Linked DNA regions of Homo sapiens: region 2 is linked to region 1. The links come from fine-mapping of genetic effects on gene expression. A gene starts in region 1. The other region holds a variant in brackets. All regions are shown on one strand. Distances are from middle to middle.

Region 1 (2,917 bases):
GTGCCAGCAGACAGGCCCACTCAGGGTCAAGACAGAAGACAGAGAGACTGGGCAGGACCTGGTTGGCATCAGACTCATCAGAAGCCTGTTTCTGAGCCCGTCTCTTCAACTATAGAGTAGCTAAGAGTTTCTACCTCACAAGTTGTATTCAATGGAATCATCCCTATAAATCCTTTAGCAGTGTCTGGCACATAGTAAATAGAATCACCTGGAGATCTAGTTTAAAATGCTTTTTCCCAGTCCTACCTTCAAAACACTGATTCTTGAGCTATGAGCTTTGTCTCAGGGCCACCAGTAACTCTGACAGGGATGGGCCCCCATACTCTGAGCAATGCTGATCTGGTGGGCCCACTTATGAACCACAAAATTATTTTCTGCACTAGAGTCACCTACAGCTTGCAAAAACTACAGGTTCTGGTCAGCAGGTCTGGGCTGGGGAATCTGTTATGTCTACTCATTACCCCAGGTGATTCTGCTTTCATCCAAGGGCCGCATTCTCAGAGGCAGCATCTGGGTCCAGGGAAAGAAAGGATTGCCTGGGTTCCCCAGTGGGTTGGAGGCCAGGCAGGAAGGGATCCCCGGCTCCTAGTCTTCATGTAAGCTCTACATTCTACAGTCTCTAGGATATCTAACAGATCAAGGGTCTGAAGGTAAGCTCCCAGAAGACAGAGGTTTTGTTCAGTTCACTACTGGATTCCTAATACTTGGAACAGTGCCTGGACAGAGTAGGTGCTTAAAACTTATTTTTGAGTCAATGGATAATTGACATGGCTGGTTTGAACTTCTGGATCTTTTGCTTTGCTTTCACACAAGGATTACTTATACCAATACTTTATTTTAAAATCTCTGGAAATGAGACCATCTGAAATCAGATAAATATGGCTTCAGATACCAGCTCTGGCACTACTAGTTGCATGATCATCAATATGTTACTTCTCTGTGCCTTAGTTTCCACATCTGAAAATTGAGGGTAAGAGTCCCTCTCTAGATTTGTGAATGGGATGAACACAGGATTTTAAGTACGGTTAGCCAGCATCCAAGATGGCCTCAATGATCTCTGCCTCTGGTATTTATGCCCTTGAGTAATCCCATTCCACATGTCTCGGGTTGGTCTGTGTGTCTTATAGAATATGGCTTGAAGTGAGGTTATGTGGCTTCTGAAGCTATCACAATGTCATAAAGGACACTGTGACTTCTGTCTTGCTCCATTTCTGGGGTCACTTGCACTAGAGGAAGTCAGCTACTAAATTACAAAGAAATTCCAGCAACCACAAGGAGAGGTCCACAAAGTGAGAGATTGAACCCTCGAGCTAACAAGCATGTGAGTGAGACATGTTGGAAGTGGATTCTCCAGCTCCAGTCAAGCCTTCAGATGAATGCAGCTCCAGCCAACATCTCACTGCAGCTTTATGAGAGCCTCTGAGCTGGAGCCACTAGGCCAAGCTGTTCCCAAATTCCTGACTCTCAGAAACTGTGTGAGTTACTATAAATATATTTGTTGTTTTATACTACAAAGTTTTGGGATAATTACTAAGGAGCAATAGATAACTAACACATTAAGGAAATTAGAGCCTAGTACTAGGTTCCGTTGGGTAAAAGGTTAGCTATTGGATTATTAATTTCTTCCATTTGTCTCTCCTGTTTCCCTTCAAAAATCAATGGCTACATTTTTCATGGAGCACTTCAAAATATTTGAAGTCTATTACCTCAGTTGGAATCCTGGGTGTAGTGATATATCTTGCTAGAAAACCACAGGCAAAATCTCTGCTCCAGAAGGGCTCCAGTTCCCTAATCTATACCAAAAGGGTATTAGCTAACTCAATTTTTTTCAACTTTAGTGTGCATAGGAAGAATCTGGGGACCTTGTGGAAAGTGCAGCTCCCAGACACCTGCCTCAACTGACTCTGTGGATGTGGAGCGGGCCCTGCCACTCCCCATTTTTAACCTACTGGGGAGAGAACGGGAGGCAAAACTACAAACCTGAAAATAAAGTGGCTAAGTGGCTTCTCAAACTCTTTCCAAGTCTCTAAACACCGCTGAGTCTGGATTGTCACTGTGCTCTACAGAGGAAACGAAGACCAAGAATTAAGCAGCTCGATTTTCCAGTGCAGACTGTTTGACCTTTGTGACTAGTAAACCACTCCTTTTATTAAGGCCAAATCTGCAAAATCTGTCTTAAAGAAAATGGTCAGTCTTTCCTTTCTTCTAAACATCTCTGATTTTTTCATCTTGTTTCCTGACTATTCACAGACAGCAACAATAACAGATTCTGGAAAGAAGGATTTGTAGTAAGTATTACAAAATCTTGTCTTTAAAATGTGGTCCTCAGCCCAACAATATGAGCATCACCTGAGAGCCTGTCAGAAATGCAGAATCTCAGGTCCCTTCCCAGAAGTCCGGAATCAGAATCCTCATTTTAACAAGACACCCAAGTCATTCCTCCCCACATTACAGTCTGAGATGATGCTCTCCTCTATTAAAAAGTTTTTTTAGGCTGGGCAATGTGGCTCATGCCTATAATCTCAACACTTTGGGAGGCTGAGGCAGGTAGATCACCTGAGGTCACAAGTTTGAGACCAGTCTGGCCAACATGGCAAAACCTGTTTCTCTACTAAAAATAGAAAAAAAATTAGCCAGGCATGGTGGCAGGTGCCTGTAATCCCAGCTACTTAGGAGGCTGAGGCAGGAAAATCACTTAAACCCAGGAGTTTGAGACTAGCCTGGGCAATACAGTGAGATCATGGCTCCATTTAATTTAAAAGAAAAAAATTGTTTTGGAAAAAAAAATGATGATGCTCTGGAACATGGATTGGCACACTACAAACTACCTGTTTTACAAAGAGTTTTGTTAAAACATAGCCCAAATCGGGCCAGGTGTGGTGGCTCATGCCTGTAATCCCAGCATTTTTGGGAGGCT
Region 2 (2,917 bases), 520 kb before region 1:
TAGAATAATTTACTCGTAGGGACACTCTGTAAAGCCCCAGCTTCAGTTCTGGAGATGGGAAATGAGGCTGTGTTGATTAAGGTTCCCTGGGTTTTCTGGACTCTGGATAGAAAGGCTGGTTTTGGCCAGGCACGGTGGCTCATGCTGGTAATCCCAGCCCTTTGTGAGGCTGAGGCAAGTGGATCACTAGAGGTCAGGAGTTCGAGACCAGCCTCGCCAACATGGCAAATCCTGTCTCTACCAAAAATACAAAAATTAGCCAGGCATGGTGGCATGTGCCTGTAATCCCAGCTACTCGGGAGGCTGAGGCATGAGAATCTCTTGAACCCAGGAGGCAGAAGTTGCAGTGAACTAAGATTGCACCACTGCACTCCAGCCTAAAAATAAAGGTTGGTTTTGACAGGCTCCTCTTGAAGAATGAAAACACCTGAAATTGTTGAGTCCTTAGAATTCTACTGGAGTATTTCTCAAGATATGGGCAGGCTCATTTGCTTCAGAAGCATCAGGGATTGGTTAAAGTGCAGTTTCTCTGGACTTCTCTCTCTTTTCCCCATCCACTGCATCAGGACTGAGAGGACTGAGTCAGAGGAATCTTCACACTCAAGGTTGAGCTTTACTGCCCCAAAGCTTGTGTGGGTCTCCTTGCCAGGGAACTGAATTGCTACATGGATTGGATTGGATTGTGTTGAATTGAATGAAAGGGTAAGTCCTTGGAAAGGAGAATTGAATCTGAGTAACACTAATTAGCAAGAAGTCATCCCTGCCTATTTTCCCAGGAGAGCTGTAGTTTGGGATTTGGGCTGCCTTGGGAGAGGCATCAAAAGATTCACTTTACCACTTTCTTTACCAAGAGTCAGTTCATGTAAATCATGGTCGGCCAGTGCTTTCTCTGTTCAGTGAAGTTCAGATAAAGATCCCTAAGGAGCTTGGATGGTAAGAGTAGGAGGAGCACAGAACATCACCTAGAAATACTCTCTCTTTTTTTTTTTTGAGACAAAGTCTCGCCCTGTTGCCCAGGCTGGAGTGCAGTGATGCAATCATGGCTCACTGCAGCCTCGACCTCCGGGGTTCAGGTGATCCTCCCACCTCAGCCTCCTGAGTAGCTGGGACTATGGGCATGTGCCACCATGCTTGGCTAATTTTTGTATTTTTTTGTAGAGACAGGGTTTTGCCATGTTGCCCAGTATTGTCTTGAATTCCTGGCCTCAAGTGATCCTCCCGTCTTGGCCTCCCAAAGTGCTGGGATTACAGGTGTAAGCCACCATGTCCAGCTGCCTGGGAATACTCTCTAGGGAAAACTGCACATGCT[T/C]TCCTTAAGTAAGCTGTGGGGTCTGGAGGCCGCTAGGAATGAACAATAGTGAACATTTCATTGCATCAGTGGCTCTCAAAATGTGGACCAGGCTTTAACAGCATCAGCATCTCTTGGGAAATTGTTAGAAAAGCATCAGACATCCTGGGTGTGGGCCTCAGCAATCTGTGTTTTAACATCTCCTCCCCATAATTGTGATGTGTGCTTATGTTTGAGAACCACTGCTTTAGACCTTCATGTCCTCCTCATGTCTGATAGATGTCTGATAGACTTAAAAAAAATGGACACAGAGATGAGGGACAAAGTAGGGTCCAGGGCTCAGTGAGTCGATGGGTAAGCACTGTTTTCTGGGTTTGAGACATCCTTGGCAACACTGGGTGTCTAGTGTCTAGACCACCCCTACCCACATCCTTCGTGTGAAACATGGTGGACTGTTCCATGGGCTACATGAGCCAGGCCCTGAACCACCCCACATCTAGAGACCTTAGGAGAATCCTTCCTTGCTTTGGAGATTCTGAGGCTCCCTTTTGGATACAGTCTTCTGATGAGCAGCGTGTTGATTTATAAGTAATTGACTGAGCAGGACTCCAGCATTAGCTTGGGTCTTTCCAGGCTCAGAACAGAGCTGGGTATTCACTTGCCCGGCTGCAAGCAGACAGTAAACTCCCTACCCCTCTACCTTGCCTCCCCCAATATACATCTCATCAAGGGACCATCTGCACCTTCTGCATATTCCCACTGACATCATGCTCTCAATTCTATCCAACTGCAGACACATTAACTGTATAGCCTTGTTCAGTGGATCCTCATTTCCAGCAGCCCACTTCATTCTTTGATTTGAAAAGTGAATATTTTTCAACCTGTATAGCCTGCTATGTAATCATAACTTAAGCAACCGTTTTCCAACAGACGACTATGCCTTGACCCCTTCTTCTGGGAAACCTGGCATTTCCTGGTCCTGGGTCCTGATGCATCTTCCTTGTTCTACCCTAGTGGGAGGGTCTTACCCACATAAAACAATGGGAATGAGAGTTGGAGGATGGTGAGGTCAGCAACTGGGCTTTCCAAACTGAAAATTGGACCACATGAGGTAGCAAAGAAATTTTGTGACTTATGTATATTTTTATTGATCTGATTCTATTCATGCATTACTGTTCGCCAAAATATTGGAATTTCTGGGACATTTAGAGGGACAAGGAGGTAGAATAATATTTGTAAATCGGAGTGGCCCAGAATATATGGGAGATATACCTAGGTCTGCAGGTTAAAACCCAAATGTCTATAGGGCTAGGTAGGTACCTAAATTAGAAAAAGGCTAGTATAAGTTGGGGACAGGTGCAAACTGGGGGCCATATACCAAACCAAAAGGAGCACAGGTGGCTGCACTGCAGTGGATTGGTGTTAGAAGGAAATGGAGGCCCTGATTGGCCTGACCTTCTAATTTTCTAAGTGAAACTGAAAATCTTTTTTCTTTTTTTTTAAGAGATAGGGTTTTGATGTGTTGCCCAGGCTAGAGCGCAGTGGCTATTCACAGGCACGATCATGGTGCACTGCAGCCTCAAACTCCAGGGCTCAAGCGATCTTCTGCCTCAGCCTCCCAAGTAGCTG

Direction of the effects. Positions count from the first base shown, and alleles are read on the strand shown. Sizes are in standard deviations (SD) of each study's normalised expression.
As copies of T replace C in region 2, the expression in lymphoblastoid cells of the gene that starts at base 1,246 in region 1 goes up (small effect, 0.35 SD a copy in TwinsUK).

The links. PIP is the estimated chance that this variant, and not a neighbour inherited with it, causes the effect.
Region 2: its variant is the best candidate, but not a certain one, in a credible set for the expression of ATOX1-AS1 in lymphoblastoid cells (TwinsUK, PIP 0.54).

What each region holds. Positions count from the first base shown.
Region 1 is chr5:151,751,835-151,754,751 of GRCh38, forward strand. It overlaps ATOX1-AS1 (ATOX1 antisense RNA 1), which reads left to right and starts at 1,246. Exons shown (of 4, transcript XR_007059008.1): 1 at 1,246-1,475; 2 at 1,839-2,288. All of the region lies in intron 1 of ATOX1 (antioxidant 1 copper chaperone), which reads right to left.
Region 2 is chr5:151,231,006-151,233,922 of GRCh38, forward strand. No RefSeq gene overlaps it. Among named protein-coding and RNA genes, the nearest start is that of CCDC69, 8.4 kb to the left of the region's middle. The variant T/C (reference allele first, on the strand shown) is at 1,310.